Regions from separate parts of the Homo sapiens genome. Here all the other regions are linked to region 6. Evidence: fine-mapped expression QTL. A gene starts in region 6. Each other region holds a variant in brackets. All regions are shown on one strand. Distances are from middle to middle. Region 1 holds the start of TMEM71 (transmembrane protein 71). Region 2 overlaps DNAAF11 (dynein axonemal assembly factor 11). Region 3 overlaps PHF20L1 (PHD finger protein 20 like 1). Region 4 overlaps TG (thyroglobulin). Region 5 overlaps TMEM71 (transmembrane protein 71). Region 6 holds the start of DNAAF11 (dynein axonemal assembly factor 11). Region 7 overlaps TMEM71 (transmembrane protein 71).

Evidence for each region.
Region 1: its variant is fine-mapped to the expression of DNAAF11 in whole blood (INTERVAL, PIP above 0.99).
Region 2: its variant is fine-mapped to the expression of DNAAF11 in whole blood (INTERVAL, PIP above 0.99).
Region 3: its variant is fine-mapped to the expression of DNAAF11 in whole blood (INTERVAL, PIP above 0.99).
Region 4: its variant is fine-mapped to the expression of DNAAF11 in gastroesophageal junction (GTEx, PIP above 0.99).
Region 5: its variant is fine-mapped to the expression of DNAAF11 in whole blood (TOPMed, PIP above 0.99).
Region 7: its variant is fine-mapped to the expression of DNAAF11 in whole blood (INTERVAL, PIP above 0.99).

What each region holds. Positions count from the first base shown.
Region 1 is chr8:132,758,930-132,762,998 of GRCh38, forward strand. TMEM71 (transmembrane protein 71) reads right to left here and starts at 1,653. Exons shown (of 10, transcript NM_001382403.1): 1 at 1,547-1,653. The variant C/T (reference allele first, on the strand shown) is at 2,223.
Region 2 is chr8:132,594,876-132,598,944 of GRCh38, forward strand. All of the region lies in intron 10 of DNAAF11 (dynein axonemal assembly factor 11), which reads right to left. Among named protein-coding and RNA genes, the nearest start is that of HPYR1, 35 kb to the left of the region's middle. The variant G/A (reference allele first, on the strand shown) is at 2,485.
Region 3 is chr8:132,830,695-132,834,763 of GRCh38, forward strand. PHF20L1 (PHD finger protein 20 like 1) reads left to right here. Exons shown (of 21, transcript NM_016018.5): 15 at 1,541-1,705. Among named protein-coding and RNA genes, the nearest start is that of TG, 34 kb to the right of the region's middle. The variant G/A (reference allele first, on the strand shown) is at 1,604.
Region 4 is chr8:132,884,941-132,889,009 of GRCh38, forward strand. TG (thyroglobulin) reads left to right here. Exons shown (of 48, transcript NM_003235.5): 9 at 1,508-2,608; 10 at 3,044-3,628. Among named protein-coding and RNA genes, the nearest start is that of TG, 20 kb to the left of the region's middle. The variant C/G (reference allele first, on the strand shown) is at 1,975.
Region 5 is chr8:132,708,885-132,712,953 of GRCh38, forward strand. It overlaps TMEM71 (transmembrane protein 71), which reads right to left. Exons shown (of 10, transcript NM_001382403.1): 10 at 1,057-2,098. The coding sequence ends at 2,083. Among named protein-coding and RNA genes, the nearest start is that of DNAAF11, 35 kb to the left of the region's middle. The variant G/A (reference allele first, on the strand shown) is at 2,062.
Region 6 is chr8:132,673,160-132,677,228 of GRCh38, forward strand. DNAAF11 (dynein axonemal assembly factor 11) reads right to left here and starts at 2,386. Exons shown (of 12, transcript NM_012472.6): 1 at 2,325-2,386. The coding sequence starts at 2,334. LOC105375767 (a long non-coding RNA gene) reads left to right here and starts at 2,471. Exons shown (of 2, transcript XR_928665.4): 1 at 2,471-2,646; 2 at 2,733-2,899.
Region 7 is chr8:132,714,977-132,719,045 of GRCh38, forward strand. The region is part of intron 7 of TMEM71 (transmembrane protein 71); the gene reads right to left. Among named protein-coding and RNA genes, the nearest start is that of DNAAF11, 41 kb to the left of the region's middle. The variant T/C (reference allele first, on the strand shown) is at 1,758.

The sequences.
Region 1 (4,069 bases), 86 kb after region 6:
AAAAAAAAGGTGGACTATATATTAAAAATAGAAAAATTATGCCAAAACAGATGGCATCTACTAATTGCACTAGTCAGATTTGTTTACTGAAATAATACAGAGATACAGAATTGAAGGTAGGAGACCAGACTGAAGACACAACCCCTCTAAAGTTGTGTCTGCCTCTATGACTGAACATTTTCCATTGCCTCACTCAGTGCATCTCAATAACATTTTTCTGTAAATAAGAACCACACTTTATTTGGAAAATCTAGACTTAAAAAGGTTGATTTGTAATCCAAAGAAAATAATGAAAGTGAGGTATTTGATTAAGAAATCTTAATAAAATGACTGGTTCTAACAGTCATTTAGCCCCAAAACAAACTTACGTGTATTTTAATCATCTGACACAAGTCAACTTCATTATCAAGTTTCAAACAGTGCTTGGAGATTGGTGTCTGTCTTTTTCCCAACAACTTGAACCATTGACAGGTAGTCACAGAGAGTGATTTTAATAGTTTTTATCAGCCTGGACATTCCTAAACAGCATAAGTAATGTTGCACTAAAGATAGCATACCATTGGGAAGATTTTAGAACTTAGTTCCCATGAAGACATGATTTAATTTCTCAATTACTAATTAAAAACATATCAAAGTATGTAAATTATGCAAACTTTGATCATTTACTGTTCATCAAATAGAACCAACTTCTGTTGACTATGAAACTTTGTATATAGTATCACTATCCTAATCGCTTTATAAGGTAGGAGTAAATTATTTTCTGATTCACCACTTATGGCCACATTTTGTAACATGAGAACTAGTAATGGATTGTTTTTGTAGCTGTAATTCAATCAATCAAACCAGGCTAATTCTACAGCTTCAAGTTGAATATTTCAATAAATTATATATAAACCCTATTAGGAAAATATAAACCTGGTTTATAGAGACCTGTAAAGATGTCAGGAGAACTTTCTGGCCTTCCTTGGAAGATTTCTAAATCAAAGCACACATTTACAAATTTCATTTGTTTGGGATATAAAATAATCCCAGTGTAATGTAATATATTAGTATGTTACTTGTTCTTTTCATTTTTGATCAATATTGTACGGGTATGCCCAGCCCAAATTACCTTATTTTAGTGTTCCCCAAGTATTAAGCTTAATTTTAAGCCTATAAATCCTGCAGCAAAAGAAGGTCTTATTGCTCTATCTCACAAGTGCTTAGAAGAATCTACAGGCAGTACACTGACATTCAATAGAAAATTAGTAACAGTAGGAAAAAAAAAAGCCCTTCAGTTACAGATCTAAAACTTTTCAAGAAACAGAATCTGCCAGTTCCATCAAAGCGACACATCTATTCTGAAAAATAATGTGTGCATACGTGTTCCTTCCAAAGGGAGTTCCCAGCCTCTTCTTCCAATTGACAAAGGACAAAATTATTACTGAAATACGAAGCTTCCTGTGGTTGACAGTGGAAAAATTGAGGACTGAGCAGTTCCTCGGCTGAAAAATGTCTGAATGTCAACAGGTGCAGAAGTCTCTTAATAAAGGGAATCCCACCCTACCTTCTTCTCACAGATGCCCACGCACATTGCTGTGCACAGGTGCTTGCAGAGAAGTTTTGTCTTCGGCAGCCTCTTGTTCTCTTGTCTGTTTCCTGGTATAAATGAGTGTATAGTTCTTGGGAAAGTCAGTCTTACAACTTCTCTTGTTTTCTTTTGAAAACAGCCTGCGTAACCAGAGGCAAAGAAGCAGAATGAGGTCACACTTCCTGTTGGGCTCACATCAGTGGCATTCACACTGAGGAGTGTGCTGAAGATTTCAGAGAGTTTCCTGGGCCAGCAGCAGGGAATGTGCAGCCCATGTGTCAGGCCAGCTGGTTACACCCTGGTCACTGGAGGGGTGGTTTTCTGAGCTAACTTGTCACCTTTGGCTGCGAGAACGTGAGAAAGACTCAGCGAACTGACATTTCTTGCTCATCATATGGCCACATTCAGTTATAAGTAGTGCAGAGTAGTGATCTTTGTCCAAATCACTTAAATTTATTGAGGATAATGCACTGATGCTATTAAATTCAGAATACTATTAAATAGCAAGAGCTTGATCTTATGAAAATTTCTATAGAGGCAATAGGTTTATCTAATGAAGGTTGGACTTCACAAAAAACTCTATAGATGGCATTTTACATTTACATTATAGTAGAGCTCAAAGACTTGATGGTGTTTATGGGTTCATACACAT[C/T]TGTACTACTGTAAGTGATAAAAGAAATGTACATTCAAATATATATTCCAGCAACATTGAGGTACCACTGCATAGTGGAAAGAGTGCGGATTCTGGGGTCACAAGACAGAAATTCAACCTGTCTACCATCCTAGCTGTGTGACCTCAGATTTGTGACTTACCCCTCTGAGTTGCAGTTTTCTCAATTATAAACATAAAAATATATATGTCATATGATGGCTTGAAGAATTAAATGAAATAAAAGAAATGAGAAATAATCGAGTCCTCAGCACAGATGTGCAAGGTGTATTCTTTATTTGTTTTCTTAAATCAAGTTCTCTTCTGAGGCACCAGTTGGTCCGGCTGGCGGAAAAGTTAATCTCATCCTTTCCTGGGGTTCCCTTTCCCCCTGAGGTTCTGCCACATGGCAGGATCTTCTGTAGAACATGTTCTAGGCAGCAGGAACTGTCAGGAGGAGGGCCCATCTAATTTCAAAGTTCTCTGTCTCTGGAACTTCATGTCTATTCTCCATCCCTTGAGTGTAGACTGAGGCTGCTGACATGCTCCTTGTAAATAAAGTAAGGCAAAGGTGCTGAGTTTCCACTACCATGATGAGGCTTCCATCTTGTTGGACTCTATTACTTTCTTGCTTGCCTGCTTTGATGAAGCAAGCTGCCATGGTGGAGAAGCCCATGTGTCAAGGAATCAAGAGTGGTCTCAAAAGCCAGTAAGGGTCTGATGCTCCATCCAACAGCCAGGAATCCAGCCAAAAACCAAGTGTGTGAGCTTGGAAGTGGATCCTTCTCCAGTTGAGCCTTGAGCTGACTGCAGCCCCATCTAATGCTCGATTGGAACTGGGAAAGACCCAGAAGCAGACAACCCAGGCTAGCCCTGCCCAGCTCCCTGGCCCACGCAAACTGGGAAGTGACAAATGGTATTTCAAGCCACCACGTTTTGAGGTAATTTGTTACACAGCAACACATAGCAGATGCATAGTCCTAACACAGGTCACTTCCTGAGCCATCTGTCATTGCTGACTCTCTGCTGCTTTAGTGACTCCTGTAGAATATAGTCACATTTACTCAAGGCTACTCCTGGTCACATCTGCCTAAATTTAACAGACAGCTATTCTGCTTCACAGCTGTCTGGTATTCTCTTTACTGGAATTCACAGTTCTCTTCTTCTCCTTTTCCTGTTTTTCTTATCCCTCATCCTCCCTCTTCCAGCCTTGGCTTATCTCTTCTAGATGAGGGAGGAAAATCTTTCTGACTTATTCGAGACCCTCTGCTCTTCCTGTGCCCACAAATCCACTTTTCCGAAGAGCTCACATCAGAAAGACTTTGGTCTACTTTTTTTTTTTTTAAAGATCTGGCACATATTAGAACCTTATTATTAATGATCATAATAATTGCTAACTTTAAGGAGTGCTTACTATGTACCAGGCACTGTTCTAAGGTCTTTCCACATATCAACACATTAATTGTTACATCAATTCCATGGGAGATGCTGTATTATTATTCTCATTTTACAGAAGAGCAAACTGAGTTTAGAGAGTTGCCCAAATTCACATAGCCAGTACGTGATGAGTAAGTAGAGCTAGGATTCAAACCCTGATGAGATGGCTCTCGAGTTTGCTTTCTTAACCTATAAGTGTAATGATCATATCCAACGTGTGTCAGCATTTTCTACAAACCAGGCACTGCACTAAACACTGTACATATGTAATCTTGTTTCAACCTCACGTAGCCCTAGAAAATAAGTGCAATTGTTATCCACATGCAGGACAGAGGTTTATAGAGTTTGCATAAATCTTTCAAAATTGCCAATGGCCAGAACTAAATTCCAAACCTATGGTTCCCCTCTCAATC
Region 2 (4,069 bases), 78 kb before region 6:
AAAGGAAATTGGTACCAAGAATGGGGGTGGTTTCCCCCATGATGTTCTTGTGATAATGAGTGAATTCTCACGAGATCTGATGGTTTGATAAATGGTAGTCTTTCTGGCTCCCTCACACACTGTCCTGCTGCCACGGTCCACGTTTGCTTCCCCTTCACCTTCCACCATGATCTGGAGGTCTCCCCAGCTATGTGGAACTGTGAGTCAATTAAACCTCTTTCCTTTATAAATTACCCAGTCTTGGGTATTTATTTATAGCAGTGTGAAAACAGACTAATACAGATGTAAACAGAGAAAGGGGCAGAAATGCTCTTGGCAGAAAAAGCACAGAAAACACAAAAGTCCTGCCGGTGGGAACAAGGTTCCAGAAACTTATTGGAACCTTCTGTATTCCAGAACCTTATAGGAATTTCCTGTGTTTCAGAACCTTTTTGGAATTTTTTGTGTTCCCGAAAGAGAGAGAGACAGAGGGGAAAAAAAAAAAAAAAAAAAAAAAAAAAAAGCTGTGTCCAGAATATGAGAGGAGAAAAGTGGAAGAAGGTATCAGAAACATAGGCAGAAACTACCTTGTACACAGCCTTCTGGGCCACAACAAGAAGTCTGAATATATTTCAAGTGCCATGGAAAGCCATTGGTAGGTTTCAACACGGGAATAAAGCTATTATTTGCAAGATGTATATTTTTATTTTGCAAAATTTACTTCTTTAAAAAAAATAAATAACAACCACGTTGAAATAATTACACCTGAGCACAGACAAAAGACTGAAAAGAAACAAAACAAAATGTTTATCCAGATAGTGGGACCATGAGTTATTTTTTTCTTTACATTGTGTTCTATTTCTACAGTCATAATTTCATAATAGGAAAGAAAAAATATTTTAAAACACAACTATAAACGAAAAAGTAAATAAAAGGGCATTCTGGCTTCTCTATGGAGAAAGTATCAAAGAGGGGAAAGAATAGAGCAGGGCAAACCGTGAGAAGGCTGTCCAAGGTAGTCCAGTTGGGGGAGGACACTGGCTTGATGGGAGGTGATGGTGGGAGGTGGTGTTAAGAAACTGAATTCAGGATGTATTTCAGTAGTGGTACCCGCAAGATGTAGTTAAGCATGCCTCCTAATCATTGACTTGAACAACTGTGTATCAGTTGATGGCGCCATTTTCTGAGACAAGGATGACTATGGGAGGAGCAGGTCTGCAGAAGGAAATCATGGGTTCATTTGGCTATTTTAAATTATTGAGGCTGGATATCAGCAAGATAGCAGGATAGGAAGTCCATGCTGACCATGAATTCATGTGGCCCGTCAATTGGCAGGTGCATACAAAATGTCATTGATTCTCAGGCCAATAATTTGCTAATATTTATATTATGAGGAAAATTTTTAAAGATGTAGTTACTGATATGTATATGTAAAATCAACACTGACAGTTACATAAGGCAGTTATGTGGCCTTGAGTAACCAGAGAGCAAATCTAACTATCAACTGATTCCTTCAAAATTATTTTCTACTTGGAAGGTCACTCTTCTGACAGTTCCCCATAGAAGATCATCCACACATTGCAGTCTAAAACTGAAAATATTTTATTAAGTTAGGACAAACATTAAGACTGAGAATAATATATAAAATGAAAATAAAATTTTCTTTTACAATCTTGCTAGAGACAGTCTCTAAACATGCTGGAGAGGGTTTTGTGCCTTAGGAAAAAAATGACATCCTGAATTCAACCCTTCTGTCTGACCTGCAGGCTAAGTACCCAGGACCTGAGGCTCCTCCCACTCACAGTAGTGGTGTTCACAGTAGGTGATAAAGTGAGCAAATAACCAGGCTGACTTGCCTAGGCTACTTTAGCCTCACTGCCTAGGAGAAAGCTTCAATATCAGGAACACTGGAATAAAACAAAGAGCGACACTCCCTCTCCTGTTGCCCCCTGTAAGGATCCAGAGTGATGGGGGCATCAGCCTGGTTCCCAGCCTCGAAGGGACTGTGATGAGATCTGTCCGACTAGGGACAGCTGTGCAGGGAATTGCCACAGTCTATGGCTTCTCCCAGTTGTCTTGAATTGTTGTCTGATGTTGTCTTATGTTTTCCTCCTCATTGCTGGCAATTAGAAGAATGACCTGTCATCCACCCCAACTGGCCAATGGGAAAAAGGGACAAAGCCCATTTTAAGTGGCAACTTTGCAGTTCTGCAGAAGCTATGAAACCAAGTCACAGAAAGACTGTGTTTGGAGCCTTTGCAGTCAGGGACAGAGACATCACTTGACCAGTGGAGAGCTAGCCTTGGGTCACCTCTTATTTTATTTTTAAAATAACCATATACAGATTCATGGATATAAAGAATACAAGAAAGATGCAGTTGATGGGTCTGTTTCAAGACGTGGCTGTTCCCCAGAGCCCACCGAGCACTGCCATTCTTGAGAGCACCACCTGCCCTGTGTGTAGCCCTGAGGAGCCTTCTCCCTCATACCTAGGAGCCTCACCTC[G/A]CAACGGGAGGCCTGTGAGTTTCCAGTGCCCGCAAAGCTGATTCCATTCTTGGATCAAGGTCAGCTGTGCAGGGAGCTCCTGGTGAGATCTGACTTACCTTCTGAGCAGCTAGGGCCTGACCTTCATCTGGTATCTACTATATGTTTATTTTGACAAGAATGTATGAAGTTGGCAGCAATAGATTTCATTATTTAAGTGACATTTGTTTATTTCACTTCCAGGAAACACAGAAAAGAGAAAAGACAACCCCTTGGTCTGGGAGGATGCCAGGCAAGGTTTTAGAGAGGATGCCCATGATTTGGAAAAGAGGCTTCTCTATAACCTTGAAGAAAACAATTATCTGCAAATAATGTGTATTTCCTTGTCCCCAGTTGACAACAAGCTGGGTAACTATGCAGGTTATCTTCCAATTAAAGTGGTATGAGGAATCATGGAAGAAAGGATACATTTCATTGTATCTACTTTTGATCCTCAACAATTTTCTTAGTGGGGTTGGGGGGGAATTTCACAGGAGAATAAAGACTGCTAAGATACTGATACTCATGAAATATCCTAAACCACTTCCTTATTTTAGAGTAGAAATATTGGGAACAAAATTTTAAAGGTGAAGCACTTTACTATATTAAGCTGCTAATGATCCAAAAGTAATCTGGCTGTAGATGAAAATTATGAGGCATTGTTTGTGTTCATTTGGAAACATACCCTATGATTTAAGGCAACATCAGAATTTCATTTCCTCTTCTGCAAAATGATAATCACCCCTACTCCATAAGATGTTCAAAGTATTCAACACTGTGTGTGGCACATGGTAAATGCTCAATAAATAGTAGCTATGTCTTTGTCGTTATTATTAACTGGTATAAGGATAAAAGCAAGAGCCTAAATGGTGTGTCTACTTATCACATTTATTACAGGATTCTGAAAGAAGAGAACTAATGACCCCAATCTAGTGTTTTCTATGACATGACACATCTATTTATTAAATTATGACCTTGGGAAATGTATATAACCTCAGCAAGCCTCATTAAATAATCTGGATAATAAAAATCCCCAGGTTACAGGGTTATTGCAGAAAGTGAGTTGTTTAAACTGTTTATCACAGAGCATATACAATTTTTGCTAAATAGTCATAATTGTAGATATATGAATGTAGGTGGTAAAGTCTTTCAGGGCAGGGGCCAAGCCAATTTTATTTTTCTATTCATAAAAAGTATAGCACAATATCTCCCAGACTGAAGGTATATAAAATGTTTTCAGTTTGTGCAGTGGGTATACATGTAAAAACCCTAAGTATAAATCCTGCAGTTAGCCATTATCTCTTTAAATATTATCTCTGCTAGAAATAAAGATGTTCTTTGAAACCAATGAGAACAAAGACACAACATACCAGAATCTGTGGGACACATTTAAAGCAGTGTGTAGAGGGAAATTTATAGCACTGAATGCCCACAAGAGAAAGCAGGAAGATCTAAAATTGACACCCTAACATCACAATTAAAAGAACTAGAGAAGCAAGAGCAAATGCATTCAAAAGCTAGCAGAAGGCGAGAAATAACTAAGATCAGAGCAGAACTGAAGGAGACA
Region 3 (4,069 bases), 160 kb after region 6:
TCTTAGCCTCTATTAAAATGGAGGGAATGTCTGCTTTTCTTAATCTAGCATTTCTCACCACTGCCATCCCCCTTTCCCACATCTTAAGGTTCATGTAGGTAATGTGTAAGATTTCCCATCTTACAGAGCCCTCTTCTAAACTTCTGTTTCTTCTCTGGTTTCTCCACCTTGCATTTACTCTTCAGCCCCATCTCATACCCACTTTTGTTGCCTTGTTGCTCACGCATAAACCTGGAAATCAATCTTGATAATGCCGTCTTAGCTCTCGGCCTCCAGTCTATAACAGCACTCCATCTTCCTTAAAATCTTCCCCTTATTTGCCATCACCCAAGTTCTGAGCCACCAACATTTCTTTCCTGGACTACTGCTGTAGCCTCTGAACTGTCCCCCCACTTCTATGTGTGCCTTCCTGCATTCCATCCTCCATTCCACAGCTAGAGTGATCCTCTGGAAATGAAACTGTCACATCTTGCTCCTCCTCCACATAAGCATTGAATGACTTTTTATTGCATTAGGGTAAAACTTTTTAAAAAAAGCTAATCTGGCTCCTGTCACTCTAGCTTTGTTTCTCCCTTATTCACTGTGTTCCAGCCAGTCTTACAGCTTGCCAAATGTGGCATGCACTCTTCAGCTTCAGAGCCTTCCCACATGCCTGGAATCACACCCCCACCTCCTTTTTTCCTTCCCTTACTATACCCTCAACTCTCCAGTAAGCTGCATATGGCCTCTCCCCTTGCACACATCTGTGGGACTCATTACAAAACTGAGAAAAACAGAATTTTTACAGAGTTCTTCCAGGACTAGTTAATTACCTTCAGAGATTTATTACTTGAAAAATTTATTGATCAGATTATCACTGTATAATTGGTGTGCCAGACATCAGGAGAACCTCTTTACGAATTGTGGGGAAGAAAAAAGGTGAATTTCCATCTTGCATATCTTTTTTTTTTCCTCTTCAACTTTTATTAGGTTGGTACAAAAGTACCTCAATTACTTTTGCACCAACCGAATAAGTTCTGGGGTACATGTACAGGATGTGCAGGTTTGTTACACAGGTAAATGTGTGCCATGGTGGTTTGCTGCACAGATCAACCCATCACCTAGGTGTTAAGCCCAGCACGCATTAGCTGTTCTTGCTGATGCTCTCCCCCACTTCCCACAGGCCCCAGTGTGTGTTGTTCTTCCCCATGTGTCCATGTGTTGTCATCTTGCATATTTTACTGCAGACATAGTTGTGATTATAATGGAGAGAAAATGTGAAATAATCCTTTTTCACCTCTATAGTACTTCACAAAAGTTTACAGGTACCAGTTAGAACCTGGTGCCCCCTACTATGTATATATTGTCTGGGGTATATTTGTTTCCCAAGTGTTCTTGCTAAACCCAGTTCATCAGATCCATATGTAGCTTTTCATGGATGAGAAGCGAAAGTGGTAGCATGATTATTTGGTGTATCCTGAAACATGACTTTCGTTATTTTTATAGTGACCTTAATTATCTGACACTTTATTAATATTTCTTTCTGTATCTTATGTTGCAGACTATTCAGACTATGAAGACAGTTCCCTCGAATTTTTGGAAAGGTGCTCTTCTCCACTAACTC[G/A]ATCTTCTGGGAGTTCTCTGGCTTCACGAAGCATGTTTACGGAGAAAACTACAACCTATCAGTACCCAAGGGCAATTCTATCCGTTGATCTTAGTGGTGAAAGTATGTGTAACCATGTGATGGTTAAAACAAGACTTACAATTCCTAAATGTGTAACTGAGAATAAAACGTACTCTGTTAAGAGCATGCGATTTAAAAACTTGTTAGCTAAACTAATATGAAAGTCTTGATGTGAGAAATTTGAGCTACTTTTTAATTTATATAAAGTTAAATTGGCTTTATACTTATTGGTGGAAGAGAGTCATAAGGAAAATATTACTAGTGTATATACTTCTGTAGGTTTTTGCACATATATTTTTATATTCTTCACTATCAACTGACAGAGTAGGTATTATTCACATTTGATATATAAACAAGCCGAAACTTACAGGGTAAGTAGCTTTTCGGCTTAGCTAGTGTTAGAATTAAAACTCTAACCAAGGTCTGTCTTAACTCCGTAGATAATGCTTTCTTAAATAAACATTTATGGTAATCTTAAAAGTATACTTTGAATTCCTGGTCAGATACATCTGTAACCAAAGTCCTGAGATGTAGTCAGACAACTGATTTAAACACAGGCAGGAACTAAGCGCCCTTAGGTAGTCAGAAGGCCACGTCAGCAGTGAAGGGAGCACTGGAGTTCAAATCTGTTAGACTTTCCTGCAGGTCCAGTCCTGACAGTGGAAAGTGTTGAAGACTCTTACCTTGCTTCCAATATTGTAAGCAATAGGCACAGAGATCCCAGCTGTAGACATTGAGGGCTGTGGCATAAGAGTAGAGCTCTAATGCAATAGCAACCAGAGTCAGAGAGTGAGGAATAAGGGACGGGGCCTTCAGCATAAGTACAACCTAGGATCCTTGTGAGTGAGCTCACTTCCTCCCTTTTTCTTTCTTCTGACTGACCTCGATGGTGGATACTAGGTTAAATGTTTGCTTTTGCACCGTTTGCTTCCAGGTCTAAGTCCTCCCTGGCTCGTTATGGAGAAAGCATTTTCTTTCCTTTATAGCTCATGACACTTGTGAGATTTTATTTTTAGAACCTTGAGGTATGGGAGGGGATTAAAAAAGAAGTTACCACCACCCTTTTCCAGCAAATACAAGTCTACTTTTTCCCATGGTTCAGTGGTTCTTCACCCCCGGTGAACCTTACAATCATTGCTGCGGTTCTTCTAAACTATACTGATCATGGATCCTACCATGAGGCACAATTGAATGAGATTTCTGGAAGGATCCTGGCAAGATACAACTTCTAGGTGATGCTATGGAGAAGCAGAGGTTGATAATCACATTAAGAACATCCTTACTGTGAATCATCAAGATCTGAAGATTATCTCTTGCTATAGAAAGATGGAGAATAGGGGTTATATCTAGGCTAGTTGTGGTGCTGAAACAAGAACCCTTGAAAGAGCATGAAAAGAGCCATAGATGTGTACTCTCTGTTCTTAGTCTCTGCCCTGCCCTTATGATCAAGTACTAAGTCAGGAGAAAGAAAAGGAAAATTAATAAGGCCTTAGGCCAGAAATTCTCAATGTTAGCATGTGTCAGAACTGCCCAGAGAGTGTGTTAAAACACATTTCTGGGCCTCACCCTCAGAATTTCTGAGTTCCAGCAAGTTCCCCGGTGATGATAAATGTTGCTGATCAGGAAACCACACTTGCAAAATGCTGTCTCAGGAAATAGCAATGACAATTTAAGGGGTAGTTGCTGGAAGGCAACAGCTGTTCTTGTGGCCACTCAGTTGGAGCCATTGTCTAGGTGGCTATTCAAGCGTAAGGGGGAACTTTTATTTGCTTCTTACATAACTTTCAGCTCTGTCATCCATTTTACTCAACTTCCAAAACTCAGCTAAGCATAAGTTTAATGCTTGGGAGTTATTCAAACTAGATTTGTGGAGAATATGATAAATTTGCTTGCTAACACCATAAAACTGGTAATCTTTGCCATGCAAGTATATGTGAGATACACTAATTCCTTTCAATGATATAATTTCAAATTAATTTTTATTTATTTATTTATTGAGGCAAGATCTTGCTCTGTTGCCTAGGCTGAAATACTGGTGTGATCGTAGTTCATTGCAGCCTCAAACTCCTTGGCTCAAGCAATCCTCTTGCCTCAGCCTCCTGAGTAGCTAAGACTACCAGCACAGGTCATCATGCCTAGCAAATTATTTTTGCTTTTGTAGAGATGAGGGCTTGCTTTGTTGTACAGGCTGGTTTCAAACTCCTAACTTAAAGTGATCCTCTCACCACGGCCTCCCAAAGTGCTGGGACTAGAGGTGTGAGCCGCTGTGCCCGGCCCATTTAATACTGTTTATATGCTGCAACAGTGTTTGAAACTGTTTTACCCACATTCCAATGAACTTGAGAAAGCCCAAAAGAAAATTTGGATTTAAGCCAGCAAGATTATGGATGGGTGAAATTTTCCTCT
Region 4 (4,069 bases), 210 kb after region 6:
CCTTCCTGTAATATCCATTAAAAGAGGCCATGGCCTCGTTGAGGGATGTTACGTGCTCTGATGCTGCCAATCTTTCCCCTCCCACCACATTTTCCAGTTCTTTCTCTGTTGCCTGGTTACAGAAGGAAATTGGCTGACTTTCTTTTTGGCATTTATGTGAATCAAGAGGAAAAAAATATTTTAAAAGTTGGGGGGGGGGCGTGGTGGTTAAAAGGTAAGAGTTATGATTTTATGGAGAAAAATGGAGCTTACTTTACATCCACCTATGTAACTGAGACAGCCCCTTGGTGTTTGAATTTTACATTTTTTCTCTCTTAATGTGGCTACAGTCAGCCTAGGATGTTCAGATAGAATGACTTGACCATGCAAAGAGTTGGCTGAGCTGATCACTGTTAAATTAGTAATTTCTAGGAAAGGTCAAGAAGCTCAGAAGAATGTTCTAAGTGTGTACACTGGGTAGGCATTATTGTTTTATATTATAGGAAGTATTATATTTCCTATATTATAATATATATTACAATATAGGAAAATATTTCTTATAATAGGAACCACTAACAGCATTTCAGATATGGTTCTTGCCCTCAAGGAGACCATAGCTAGCCTAGAAAAGACTACTCCCAAGGAGGAATTAGCCACACTAAAATCACATAGTGAAGCATTGAAGTCTATTGAGAATTCCAACGAGAGAATGCTGGAAGACAACATTTCATTAAATACGCATAGGAATGTGTTGGTCTACTAGTCTCCTAGAGCTGCCACAACAAGTCACCACAAACCAGGTGGTTTAAAACAACAGAAATTTATTCCCTCCTAGTTCTGGAGGCCAGAAGTCTGAAATCAAGGTGTGGGCAGGGCCATGCTCTCCCTGAAGGTTCTATGGCAGAATTCTTCCTTGCCCCTTCCTGGTTTCTGGTGGTTGCTGGCAATCCCTGGTGTCTTTGGCTTGTGGCTGCCTCCCTCCAATCTGTGCCTGTGTCTTCACACAGCCTTCTTCCCTGTGTGCATCTTTGTTTATTTACATGACCTTCTTATAAGGACATCAGTCATTGGATTTAGAGCCCACCCTAATCCAGTATGACATCATCTTAACTTGGTGACATCTGCAAAGACCCTATTTCTAGACCACATTCTGAGGTTCCCTGTAGACATGAACATCATGTCTGTGTGTGGTGGGGGACACTATTCACCTGAGTACCATTGGCAAGTGAGGTCAGGTTTTCAGAAAGTGAGCCAGTATTTTCAAGACTTGCCTTAGAAGGGATGAACCTCTAGTGAGAGCTGGTGGAGTGGTCATGCCAACTGGAAAAGTCACACTTCCAAAATGGCCCCACAAAGGCAGCTCAGGGGAAAGGAAAAAATAAAATGACACAGAGAAGAAAGTGGTTTCAAACGTAGGTGTCCTTGATTGAATGTTCTGGCTTCTTACTACCTAAAGGATCTGAGGAGCTGTCTCAGGATTGCTTGTGACATTAAAACCTTTTCTCCCATTTCACTTTGTCTCATGCAGCTGAAGGCCAATCTTGTGCCTCCGAAAGGCAGCAGGCCTTGTCCAGACTCTACTTTGGGACCTCAGGCTACTTCAGCCAGCACGACCTGTTCTCTTCCCCAGAGAAAAGATGGGCCTCTCCAAGAGTAGCCAGATTTGCCACATCCTGCCCACCCACGATCAAGGAGCTCTTTGTGGACTCTGGGCTTCTCCGCCCAATGGTGGAGGGACAGAGCCAACAGTTTTCTGTCTCAGAAAATCTTCTCAAAGAAGCCATCCGAGCAATTTTTCCCTCCCGAGGGCTGGCTCGTCTTGCCCTTCAGTTTACCACCAACCCAAAGAGACTCCAGCAAAACCTTTTTGGAGGGAAATTTTTGGTGAATGTTGGCCAGTTTAACTTGTCTGGAGCCCTTGGCACAAGAGGCACATTTAACTTCAGTCAATTTTTCCAGCAACTTGGTCTTGCAAGCTTCTTGAATGGAGGGAGA[C/G]AAGAAGATTTGGCCAAGCCACTCTCTGTGGGATTAGATTCAAATTCTTCCACAGGAACCCCTGAAGCTGCTAAGAAGGATGGTACTATGAATAAGCCAACTGTGGGCAGCTTTGGCTTTGAAATTAACCTACAAGAGAACCAAAATGCCCTCAAATTCCTTGCTTCTCTCCTGGAGCTTCCAGAATTCCTTCTCTTCTTGCAACATGCTATCTCTGTGCCAGAAGATGTGGCAAGAGATTTAGGTGATGTGATGGAAACGGTACTCAGCTCCCAGACCTGTGAGCAGACACCTGAAAGGCTATTTGTCCCATCATGCACGACAGAAGGAAGCTATGAGGATGTCCAATGCTTTTCCGGAGAGTGCTGGTGTGTGAATTCCTGGGGCAAAGAGCTTCCAGGCTCAAGAGTCAGAGGTGGACAGCCAAGGTGCCCCACAGACTGTGAAAAGCAAAGGGCTCGCATGCAAAGCCTCATGGGCAGCCAGCCTGCTGGCTCCACCTTGTTTGTCCCTGCTTGTACTAGTGAGGGACATTTCCTGCCTGTCCAGTGCTTCAACTCAGAGTGCTACTGTGTTGATGCTGAGGGTCAGGCCATTCCTGGAACTCGAAGTGCAATAGGGAAGCCCAAGAAATGTAAGTCTGTTGGGTATTCAATCTGTAGGTTCCCTGAGTCTCTCTTTAGGCCCTGACCCAATGCAGTACAGTAATAGAAATCCACTCCTGGCCAATGCTTACACTTCAGTTAAGGACAAAATTGACTGCTTATATTAAAAATTATCCAGGAATGCCTAGATAATGTTAATCAGACCTAGGAGTAAATGGGGAGATTTGTCTGGCCTTAAAGAACTGCCACATTTCTGCAGTGCTGATCACCAACTGATGTCAATGGTGCTGATTTAGTCATGGGGCAATGCCTATCTAGATATTATTTACAAATTTAAGCTTCATGGTATTTCTATGGCTATATAAGGTTTTAGACGGAGTTTGGACAGTTAAGTGGTTTTATCTTGGTCTTTCCAGTTTGTTAAATTTCTTAAACTGAAACACCTGCTCATTGTTCCTCCCCAGGCCCCACGCCCTGTCAATTACAGTCTGAGCAAGCTTTCCTCAGGACGGTGCAGGCCCTGCTCTCTAACTCCAGCATGCTACCCACCCTTTCCGACACCTACATCCCACAGTGCAGCACCGATGGGCAGTGGAGACAAGTGCAATGCAATGGGCCTCCTGAGCAGGTCTTCGAGTTGTACCAACGATGGGAGGCTCAGAACAAGGGCCAGGATCTGACGCCTGCCAAGCTGCTAGTGAAGATCATGAGCTACAGAGAAGCAGCTTCCGGAAACTTCAGTCTCTTTATTCAAAGTCTGTATGAGGCTGGCCAGCAAGATGTCTTCCCGGTGCTGTCACAATACCCTTCTCTGCAAGATGTCCCACTAGCAGCACTGGAAGGGAAACGGCCCCAGCCCAGGGAGAATATCCTCCTGGAGCCCTACCTCTTCTGGCAGATCTTAAATGGCCAACTCAGCCAATACCCGGGGTCCTACTCAGACTTCAGCACTCCTTTGGCACATTTTGATCTTCGGAACTGCTGGTGTGTGGATGAGGCTGGCCAAGAACTGGAAGGAATGCGGTCTGAGCCAAGCAAGCTCCCAACATGTGAGCTAACGCATATGAAGAGTTAAATGTGTGTGTGTGTGTGTGTGTGTGTGTATGTGTGTTTAACATATAAAAAAGGATGTCTAGTGGGAGGGTATTGAGTGTCAAAGCTGGAATGGAGTTTAGAGATGGCTGAGAAAACGAAGGCTCACAGAGGGGAAGGGACTTCCCTGTATCAACACAGTCAGGTGTTGGCAAGATTGATAGAGTATATTTTAAAACTTTCATATAATTGATTACTTCAATCAGTGTCTTAGATTTTTACTGGATGTCTTCTGTGTGCAAGCATCTTCATCTTAGAGCTGATGAAGGCTATAAAAGTGGAGATGACCTGGCCCTCGTCCTCCTATGGTTAATGTTTAGTAATCGCTCCTATGTTAGGTGTACCTTTTAATTGACCAATGAATATTACAGTGAACCTGCTACTTGCACAGAATGCTG
Region 5 (4,069 bases), 36 kb after region 6:
GGAATGCAAGCAGTCTCTAGGTTTTACCCTTGTAAGGCTCATTTTGGACTGACCCCCAAAACTGTAAGATAATAAATTTGCATTGTTTTAAGCCACCAAATCTGTGGTAACTTGTTACTGTAGCCATAGTAAGCTTATACAGCCGGGGAGAAAATGTCCTTGTCAACAATGAAGCATTATATGCACGTAAACAGTTAGTACTATTTCAGTATCTTACTTTGAAAAACATTATCATTTAAATCAAATGACTCTGTAGAAAAATGTGTGTTACACATAGACAAAGGAAATGTAGAAATTCTCAATGGAAGTTCTCCTAATAGTGTATTAAATGAAAGGCTCCATATGCATTTAGTTCTCCATTAAATTCATTTTAAATCCCACTTCAAAGCATTCATGCACGTGGATTGTGGATCACTTTGTGATCACTTAACCTACTTGTAAAAATGGCAAAGGCATGGGACATATCCCAGACCTACTAAATTATTACACGAGGCTATTTCAAATACAACTGTGGTAAGCTTACTAATGGTCCCCCAAAATAGCCAGGTTCTAATCATAGGAACCCATCAATGTTACCTTATATGAAAATAGGGGCCTTGAAGGTGTCATTAAGTCAAAGATTTTATCTTGGATTATCAGAGTGGATCCTAAATGTAGTCTCAAGTGTCCTTTAAAGAGGGAGGTAGAGGGAGATTTTACTGCAGAAGAGGAGAAGGTGATGTAATGATGGAAGTAAGAAATCAGAGTGGTGTGCTTTGGAGGTGGAGGAGGGGGCCACAAGCCAAGGAATACAGACAGCCACTGGAAGCTAAAAAAGGCAAGGAAATAGATTTTTCCCTAAAGCCTCCAGAGGGAAAATAACTCTGCTGACCTTTATTTTAGACTTCTGAGCTCCAGAACTGTAAAACAATAACTTTGTGTTGCCGTAAGCCACTTGGTTTAGGGTAATTTGTTAAGGCAGCAATAGGGAAATAATACAGTCTTCAATGAATGATGTTCTGCCATGATTTCTCAAAAAAATATATATATACATATATATATACACACACACAAATATAAATTTGCTGATGACTTCACTTATTTATTAGTTTATTTTTTAACCAAAAATGTACTAAATGCAAATTATATATAAAGTTATATTTTGGCATTATCATTTCGAGCAAAGACAATTTTCTGCATGTATGAGTTTTTACTCAGAGAGTATCACATAGAACAAATTTGAATTACAGGCCATATTTGCTTTGTGAACACGCACCAAGTGTGGGGGGTGGAAAGGGAACATCTACAGCCCTTGAGTCAAGGCTCAAGGGTACAACTGCACCATTTTCATGCATTTGAAAGCGCATTGGTGTTTTGCCTATATTTTGCCCTCAAGGCATTTTTCTGTGTTATATCTTTAAGTGACATTAAAGTGAAAGGTAATTACGAGCCCCAAGAAGATTAAAAACTTGGTTTAGAACGTGGTTCAAAAGAATATAACTTTCAGAAAATGCTTCTTTCCTGTCCATTTTCATATTAACCATCATCTACGGTTACCACCTAATATCAAGTCACTCCACTGAGGTGAATGACAAACTTTTGCAGCATTATATTTTATGTACAAATTGCATTTATTGTTATTCAAGTTGTCAGGTTGGTATTAGTTAGACAAACTTGCTCTCATTATTCTATTAAAGCAATTCAGCAAGAGATAGGTGCATGTGGCAGACCCAGAAATCTGGTTACAAGCTCCTCACAGAATTTCCTAATGAAAATTCAAGCTCGAGAACCACTGCCTTAAAGAATCATAGGGGGACATTTATTCCAGGCGGTCTCTTTTCCATCACATTCCCCGTCCTTTTCCTTTCAACTGCCGGTGTTTGCAAAGGGAAGGCAAATTAATATTATTTTCATGAGCATATTATAATTTTGATGGAAAAACTGAGATCATTTTAAAATCACATAGTCAAACTAAAATGGCTTTTTCTCCATTACTCGCTTACTCCCTTCCAATAAAACACTTGATTCCAAGTAGACTGCAAGTTGGACAATTTCCAGATATTCAGATGGAGGACATTCATC[G/A]AAGGCATTCCTAAATGGTTGTCAAATTTTGACAAACCTAGATTGGAGAAATAAGAAAAGAAATGCATAATTCATCCCCATGCACAGGAAATGCAGTATCTAATCACTGCATACCCATTTGCGCATATATAAGCACACACCCACACCCATACCCACAACGGGCCTGAATTATCACAACTAGGAAGAGTGCAGCCTCAACTAAGGGTACTTTTCGTTTTTGCTTTTATCCCAGCAGTTCTTAGTGCTCTCCTTTTTGTCTGAAAGACTATAGAGGTTTTGACCCCTCAGCCCAGCGTGGTACTTAGTTAACTAATATTTCCTATGGTTTCCTCTTCCCACCTGCCCTTATGGCATTTTTCTGTATTATATCAGTATTTTAATTGCACTTTAAGTGAAAGGTAATCATGATCCTCAAGAAGATTAAAAACTTGGTAAAGAAAATGGCTCAAAAGAATACACCTTCCAGAAAATTGCTCTCTCCTGCCCCGTAGAACAGCCTGTAGGGTAACAGGTGGATTTTCCCCATATTTTTATTCCCTAAAGTTTATTCACTCATTCATTAAGTATACGAACATACATTCCTTCATTTAAGAGAGAACAGATGTGACCCATTTTGTTACTATGAAATCATAAGTGTGCAAAACGTGTACCGCTGATGCTAACACATCATTACTAACATGAGATACCTGTGCTGACCTTCATTTGCAAGGGACACTCAGGCCAGTGGTGGACAAGACAGATAGTCCCTATCTTCACAGGCTTTAAATTTAATCAGGAAAGCAGTTGACTAAGAATTTCATTATGTTATGAAAAGGGATATGATGTGAGCCGTGTGAGGTGCTAAAGAGGCACCTAATCTAATCTAACTTGCACAGTGCAGGATGGGTGTGTGTGTTGGGGGGAGGGTGCTGCATTAATATTTGTTGAACTGAATTCAGTTCCTTAGATTCTCATCATTGATTGTTAGAGGAGACTTATGAGTCATTCTTGATTCTCGATATTAATAACCATATCTTTGGTTTATTAGTTTCTCGGTATGTTTATATAAGAAGGAGAGGGTTGCAAAATCTTTAATATACACGCAGAGCTCTTGGCTTTCAAGGAAGTACTTCAAGAAATGATGCAGTAAATACATTAAATTTAATGAATATGTACAGAGTACATACTATTTTCAAGGCTTTGGTTGTAGATACAAAAATGAAGTCAATAGTCCTTGTTTTCACAGGTCTTAAATGCAAATGTGTGTGTATATGAGGCTGGTGGGCAGGAAACAGGAAAAAATGGAGTTGGGAACAAGAGAAGAACAAGTCAAAGTATGTACACAAATAATCAAAGAAAGGATCTCCTTCCATAAATGAGTCAGAAGATAAAAGTGTTTGTTCAGGATAGAAATATTGTCCTGATGTAATTTCTTTTGGGAGAGAACAAACAATGAGCTCAGAACAATGGGAAGTTCTGAGAAAACAGCAGGTGATATAACCCCTGCAGATCGGATATTGGCTCTTCCAGGAGGCCCTCCCTGAACATACTCCCCACTCCTCTTAGTCTGGGAAACTGACCTCCTTGTGCTCCCCCTGGCTCCTGTACTAACCTGATATTTGCACTTACCATATTAAAAGGCAACTTCACCTTGCCCCTTACAAGTCCTTTACTCTAATGAGATGATAAAATCTCAAAGCCAGCCACATGCTGGGGCATTCACACCCTGGTACCTAGTGACTGTGTCTAACCCATGGTAGACACTTCATTAACAGCAACTGAGCTAAACTTGGTACCCCATACCGTATAGAACATATTGTAAATTCTTAATAAAGATTTGGTAACTTAGGTGGTGCCACTTTAGAAATCAATAATTGTTTTAAACAAATGTCATTAACTCCTTTTTCTTTTTTCTTTTTTCTTTTTCTTTTTGTTTTTAAGACAAATTCTCTCTCTGTAGCCCAGGCTGAAGTGCAGTGGCATGGGCACAATCACAGCTCACTGCAGCCTCCACCTCCCAGGCTCAAGC
Region 6 (4,069 bases):
CCTGTGGGCGGCAGTGCGGTGTAATGCAGGACCCAGAGGAAATCTTCGTGGGTTCTGTTCCCAGCCCTGATAGTTACTGTGTGATTTACTCTCTGTGCCTCACCAAAGAAATAGAGATGTCAGTAATCCTTCCCTGCCTTAAAAGGCTGCTGGGAAGATCAAACAAGAGAATGCAGGTAAAGCATGTTAACCAAGCCTGGCACATCAGAGCTACTCATTGGAGGAGTGCTTGTCATCTGTCCTGTTGCCACGACCTCAGTTCAGCCTACTATCTCCCACTCGAACTCCTATAGGGCCAAGCTATGCCCATGAACAAAACCTTTTGGTTTCTCTGTGGCTCTTTTGATAAATTTCTAAATCCTAAGTACAAAACCTGTATGAGCGGATCCCTGCCTACCTGTCAGGCCTTCCTTATCTCTTTGCTCTCCACTCCTTCTTTCTGTCTCACACCAGTTCCTGTCAGTGACAATTAGCCACCAAGAAGCCCTGCTCTTTCTCACCTCTGGGCAATTCACTGAGCTTTCCTGTTTCCTTTCCAGACAGCACTGCTTCCTCAGAGAAGCCTCCACCCACCTTGGGGTTAGGTCCCCTACCCACACCCTCAGGGCACAGGCACCCCTCTCTCTCCTGGCTGTAACCACTATACTTCTGTTTGTCTTCTCCCTCCCTAGGAGGGTAGGCCCACATCTGCCTCCTTCCTCACTGTATCCTGCATTCAATACCTGATTCAAGGTAGACACTCCGATGCAAGTCTGACAAGTTAATGATTTAACAAATCAAAGTGGGCACGACTCAGAGAAAGAGGGCAAAGGAAAATTCCCGACATAAAAAAGCGAAGAAGAAGGAGAAGGAGAAGGAGGAGAAGGAGCAGGAGGAGCAGGAGCAGAAGGAGCAGGAGGAGGAGGAGCAGGAGGAGGAGGAGCAGGAGGAGGAGGAGCAGGAGGAGGAGGAGCAGGAGGAGGAGGAGGAGGAGGAGAAGGAGGAGGAAGAGGAGGAGGAGAAGGAGAAGGAGGAGGAGGAGAAGGAGGAGGAGGAGAAGGAGGAGGAGAAGGAGGAGGAGGAGAAGGAGAAGAAGAAAAAAACCAACTAGGGTGAGACCAGGGGATGGGGAGACAGCCCTGAGAAGAGAGGAAGAAATATCAGTAGCTGATTTAGGAAAGGAGTTTCAACATTTACAAATCACTCCCCCCCGACCCCCACCTCTCCCACTTGCAGGCTGTCAGGTCTTCCAGGGCAGAAAGCCCATCATCTGGAGCAGTCTCTTGATTTAAAAAAAGTTAATTATGACATTTTTACAATGATAAGTGATCAATTAGGTAGAGCTGTACAAAACTGCCATATGGGGAGCTCAAAAACGTTGTCGATATCAAAATGGTTCATACAATATAAATAACTTACCCGCATCACCTTGCAGTTTGTTAGTATATTCTTAAAGAAACACGTTTACTACCGGGCGCAGTGGCTCACGCCTGTAATCGCAGCACTTTGAGAGGCCGAGGCGGGCGGATCACCTGAGGTCAGGAGTTCGAGACCAGCCTGGCCAACATGGCAAAACCCCGTCTCTACTAAGAATACAAAAATTAGCCTGGCGTGGTGGTGCACGCTGTAATCCCAGCTACTCAGGTGGCTGAGGCAGGAGAATTGCTTGAACCCGGGAGGCGGAGGCTGCAGTGGGCCGAGATCGCGCCGCTGCACTCCAGCCTGGGCGACAGAGCAAAACTCTTGTCTCAAACAAACAAACAAAAACACGTTTATAACACTTACTGTGTCTAAAACAGTAGTATGATTGCCATTATTTTGGAGATGAAGAAGCTGAGGCCCAAGGGGTGAAGTCACTCGCTCAAAGTCACAGGAAGAGGGAGGACTTCAACCCTGGCTCCAGAGTCGGAACCCTCCACCATTAGGCTACACTGCCTTCCGGAATGAGTCCGAAGATTGCGGCTTGGAGACAGTGACTGGCCCACGTTCACAGCCAGTAAGGAGCCACTTGGCCGGAACGTGGTGTGTCTGGCGCCAAAACCCCTGCACGTTCCCCGACCCCTTTCCTGGAGTCCAGTGCCTTTCTGCCTCTTCCTCCCCTTCCCACGGCCCCGCCCATTTTACAGATTAGGAACCTGAGCTGGAAAAGGCCAGGCTGTCCGGCCAGTCTGCAGAGGACCTGGTGCAGCCGGGGCTGCGGTGCGGAGGGCCGGGTGGGGTTAGGGTCCGCCCAGGCGCGGGGGAACCGACAGCGCAGGGCGGGAGCGGGCGGCGAGGATCCCACGAGACCCGGGACTACTTCCACAAGGGGAACGATCGAGGACGGAAGGTGGAGGGGGGCTTACTCCAGCCCATGGCGCCTCTCCAGTTCGCTGACCCCGCAAGCCGGACCCGGACCTCGAATGACGCTTTTCACCCTTCACCCCTGCTCCTCAGCGCGTCCCCGTCGGAATTCAGGAGCCATGGCAACGGGGACTCTACGGCGGCCGCGCGGGACCAAAACAAGCCGCGTTTCCTGAGCTCCGCGGAGCAAGCAGAGGAGACCGCAGTGAAGGGGCTCAGCAGACAGGGGTTCCCCAACCCAAACCCAGTCTTCGTCCTCGTCGCACTTCCGACTTGCCACAGACTGCTTCCCTCTCCCTGAATCAATGGTTTAGAGTGAACAAAGTATGAGGACGCTTCTCTTTTCTGTGCCTTCCAGGCTTGCCTTCCAGACCGCCTTTGACTTTTTCCTTTTTGTGTTTGATTTACAGCTTCCAGAGCCAACAGATCTGGATTTGGCCCCCAACTCTACCAGCGGCGTGACCTTACACTTCCTTCTCCTCAGTTTGCACATCTGTAAGATGAGAAATAACCTAAGAGGATCACTGTGAAGCTTTAATTAGATAATTTGAGTGAATGAAAGACACTATGAAAACAACAGGCTCACTATAAAGATTCGTTGTCGTTGTCATATTCCAGCTTTTTAAAGTCACTCTCCAACACTCGTTTCCGGCTAACAAGCTTTCCAGAAACGCCACCCATTACCCCCTCCATCAATTTCCCTATTCTCCACTCTCTTAATTGTAAAATGTAGGAAGTATATCTCCTACAGCCCCACACTCCCCTCACGTTTCCCCAGACCCTTCTCCAAAAGTGTGCAACGCGCCTTCTCCCATTCTAAACTAGGAAGCACATCAGCAAGCTCATTCACCCTCAGATCTTAGTGTTAGCACTTTAATGCGTTAGCTTCCCAAGAATCTTTAAAAGGTACCATTATTATGAAAGTAATTATTATTCTTTACTCCATTTGCAGAAAAAGGAGGGGGGCAATATGTAAAAGGTAAAACCTTCTCCCATCCCAGTCGTTTTAAACAGTATGGAGTGCGTGCTTCTTATCTTGATGTGTGTATTATGTTTGCATTTTAAAAGAAGATTCCTAGAGCAATGCTGAGTGCAAAGAAATTAATTTTTCTAGCGAATAGCTGTTAAGCATTTACAGCTGGCAATTATTAGAGTTTGCCAGGTAGAGACAAGGTCATGAACTTGGACAGAGAGGCAGGAAAGTCTAACAGAGTGAGGTGATGGGGGGAAGCAGAAACATCAGTTTGGCAATAAAGAGAGCTAGATAGAAGGGATCTTCGAACAGTAAGAATGAGAGATTAGATCGGGGGTAATGGGGGCCTTAAATGCCAGGCCAAAGGAACTGAACTGGAAGAGTGGGATTTCAGGCACTATTTCCCTGAATATTTGGATTTCCAAGGAGGCCTCCCAAAAGGCACTCAAACTATAAACTTACCTGACATCCACTATTATTTTTCTGAAAGCAGGTTAGTGTGAGGTGAACAGTATTAGCTCTGGCATTGGAAACATAGATTAAATACACAGATTTATTACTGTGTGGCATCAGACAGATGACTTCACCTTTGAAAGCTGAAACTTCTCTATTTCCACATGATGATGACAATATGGGTAAACATCTGTGGTCGTGCCACTGACACGCTGACACTGACACGTGACACTGAGCACTGATGTCTGATTACTCACAAAGGAGATGAAATGCTATTAGCAGCAGGCAAGTTTAGCAAATTCGCCTGTGCTTGAATTGTGC
Region 7 (4,069 bases), 42 kb after region 6:
CTCATTACAGTAATGCAAATTAAAACAGCGAGATATCACTGCATACCTAGTAGAATGGCTAAAACCCAAACAACTGGCAATACAAAATGCTGGGAGGATGCAGAGCAACAGAAACTCTCATTCATTGCAGTTAAGAATGAAAAGAGTGCAGCAGGGCGCGGTGCTCATGCCTGTAATCCCAGCACTTTGGGAGGCCGAGGCGGGCGGATCACGAGGTCAGGAGATTGAGACCGTCCTGGCTAACACGGTGAAACCCTGTCTCCACTAAAAATGCAAAAAAAAAAATAGCCGGGCGTGGTGGCGGGCGCCTGTAGTCCCAGCTACTTGGAAGGCTGAGGCAGGAGAATGGCGTGAACCCGGGAGGCGGAGCTTGCAGTGAGCCGAGGTCACGCCACTGCACTCCAGCCTGGGCGACAGAGCAAGACTCCGTCTCAAAAAAAAAAAAAAAAAAAAAAAAAAGAATGAAAAGTGTGCAAACAGTTGGAAGATAGTTTGGCCCTTGCTTACAAAGTTAAACATAGACTTACCATATAACCCAACAGCTTCACTTGCTTACAAATTTAAACTTAGACTTACCATATAACCCAACAGTTGCACCCCTTGGTATTAATTCAACTGAGGTGAATTCTGTGTCTGTACAAAAATCTGCATATGATTCTTTGTAGAAGCTTTATTCAAAGTGGTCAAAAACTGGAAGCAACCAAGACACCCTTCAATAGGTGAATGTATAAACAAACTGTGGTACATCCATACAATGGAATATGATTCAGCAACAAAAAGGAATGAGCTAATTGTAGAATAGCACATTTGTTATTGCTGTGGGTTAGTATATTTTCTTAGAGGAGGTGAATAGTTTTCTGTATTAATCATATACAAGCAAAATATTCCGTGAGAGAAATAATTTGTTCTGACAAAACAAGAAATTAAGGGAAGACAGAAATGGTGGGAAAAACTGAAGTCCCATAAGCGATGGCAGCAGCAGCCCATCTGGAGTGGCTGCTGCAAAGACGCCAGCTGCAGCAGGGGAGGCCTGGCCAGGGTTGTGGGCTTCGCAGAGCCCGAGGGAGCCGAGAACAGGAGGGAGCCCGGAACTGGAGGGGGCCCCGCCCTCCCAGGTGCAGCTGCAGCCGCTCAGCCATGGCTCTGAACCCAGGCATCCCTGCACTCTTGGGGGCCTTGGAAGCCCCCCTGTGCCTGCAGGCTTGGAAGCGCCTGCTCCTGCCCCTGGCCTCTCCCTGCTCCTGTTGCCCGCTCTGATTTCGGAGCAAAGTTGTGGCTAGGCCCGGGTGCTATCGCAACCTAGCAGTGACCAGACCCCACATTTGTTTGCTCACACGCCCCTCACCACTCCACACCTTGCTTGTAAAGGCTCAATATATTTCTGAATCAGAGTCATGGCAGTGAAGAGATGGAGATCTAGATCACCCACACTGTATATTCCATAGCATATTTTGTCTGTAAAAAAGCTACTCAGACCAGTCAGACCTAACACCCCCTTTCAAAAACAAGCATTTCATTTAATAACAGTGATGCCTCTTTTTATCCTGTAATAAATTTCATAAGTAATATAACCCATCTACATAAGTAATCTAGAGATGATTTAAACTATATGGGAGGATATACATACGGTATATGCAAATACTACATCATCTTATATAAGGGGCTTTAGTATTCAAGGATTTTGGTATCTGAGGGAAGCTCTAGAATCAAACCCCCTTCGGTATTGAGGGACAACTGTATTCAATGCTTGTACTTTA[T/C]AGTTATGAATAATTTATAACTTGAAAGATATAAATTATCCTCTCTCTCTCTGTCTCTCTGTCTTTCCCACCCCATCTCTAACTTTATTACTACATCTATCTCTATGGCACTTCACAACTGCACATTGTTCTGTGGTGTGAATTTATTTATTCAGTCCTCCATTTATGACATTTGGGTTGTTTCTATTTTTGCTATTACCAAAATGATGTGCAAGGGACCCAAAATAGCTAAAACAATCTTGAGGAAGGAAAACAAAGTTGGAAGGCTCATGCTTTTCCACTTCAAAACTTACTACACTATACGCAAAAGAATGAAGTTGAAGCATTACTTTATGCCATATACAAAGGTTAACTCAAAATGAATTAAAAACCTAAATGTAAGAGCTAAAACTATAAAACACAACAAAAGATGGGTGAGAAACTTCATGACATTGGATTTGGCAATGATTTATTGAATGTGACACCAAAAGCACAGACCACAAAAAAAGAAAAAAAGTAGAGAAGTTGGGCTACATCAAAATTTAAAACTTCTGCACATAAAGAATACATTCGACAGAGTGAAAAGGCAAACCACAGAATAGGAAAAACATTTGCAAATCACATATCTGAGAAGGGGTTAATATGCAGAATATATAAAGAATTATTTTAACTTAACAACAAAAAGCAAACAGCCTGGTTTAAAAAGTGTCAGAGTACTTGAATAGACATTTCTGTAAAACAGATACACAAACAAACATCCAATAAGTGCATGGAAAGATGGTCAACATCATTATCCATCAGGGAAATGCAAATCAAAACCACAGTGAGATATCACACCACACCCACCAGGATGGCTCTAGTCAAAAAGACAGACAATAACAAATGTTGAGGATGAGGAAAATTTGGATTCCTCATACATTGCTGGTGGGGGTGGGAGTGTAAGATGGTGCAGTCCTATTGGAAAACGTTTCAGCAGTTTCTAAAAATATTAAATATGGACTTACTATATGCCCAGAAACTCCATTCCTAGATATTTAACCAAGAAAAATGAAACTGTATGTCCATACAAAACTTGTGCACCAGTGTTCATAGCAACATTATTCATAATGGTCAAATGGGGAAAAACTCAAATGCCCATCAACTGACGAATGGATAAACAAAATGCAGTATATCTATGCAATGGAATATTATTCTTCCATAGAAAAGGATGAAGTACTGATACATGCTACAACATGGATGAACTCTGAAAACATTATGCTACATAAGTCATACCAGACACAGAAGTCCACATATTGTATAACTCTATAGGAAATGTCCAGAATAGACAAATTCACAGAGACAGAAAGTACATTAGTGGTTTTCAGGAGGTGGAAGAGGAAGGAAAGGAGAGTAACTGCTAATGGGTAGAGGGTTTCTTTTTTCAGTGATGCAATTGTTATAGAATTAGAGTGGTGATGGTTGCACAATTTTGTAAATATACTAAAACCACTAAAGGTGCACTTAAAAATAATTTTTAAAATCTGTTTAAAAATACAATGAATAGCATTTTTTAAAATGCAATGAATAGCATTTTACATATGTCATTTCACACAATAAATTATTTGAAAAGGCCTGGCCAGGTCAAAGGAGATATGTAACTTTAAACTTGGTCGACATTATGGAATCTCCCTACCTGGGGATTTTCTCTTTTTTTTTTTTTTTTTGAGACAGAGTCTCGCTCTGTTGCCCAGCCTGGAGTGCAGTGGCACAATCTCGGCTCACTGCAAGATCCACCTCCCGGGTTCACACCATTCTCCTGCCTCAGCCTCCCGAGTAGCTGGGACTACAGGTGCCCACCACCACGCCTGGCTAATTTTTTATATTTTTAGTAGAAACGGGGTTTCACCGTGTTAGCCAGGATGGCCTCCATCTCCTGACTTCGTGATCCATCTGCCGCAACCTCCCAAAGTGCTGGGACTACAGGCGTGAGCCACCGTGCCCAGCCCCCCTACCTGGGGATTTTAAGAATAAATTGTTAAAAATTTCACAGCAATGATGGAGCATGTCTGCTATTTCACAACCTTGTCAAAAAAGTGTGACCAAGCATTTGAATTTTTGCCAATATGATGGGTGATGATGTCACTGAGTAGATTTATTTCAAAAAAGAATAGTATTTTTATTGTTTTTATTTTCAAAATGTGAATCATTTGAAAGAGATTACGAATAAATACAAAAAGGAAAAGAAAATATCATCAGAAAAATCCCACCATATGGAAGAAGTTATTAATAAAATCTGGTGAATATCCTTTGGAAATCTCTTTATATGCATTTTAAAACTGTTATTCTAAAATGAG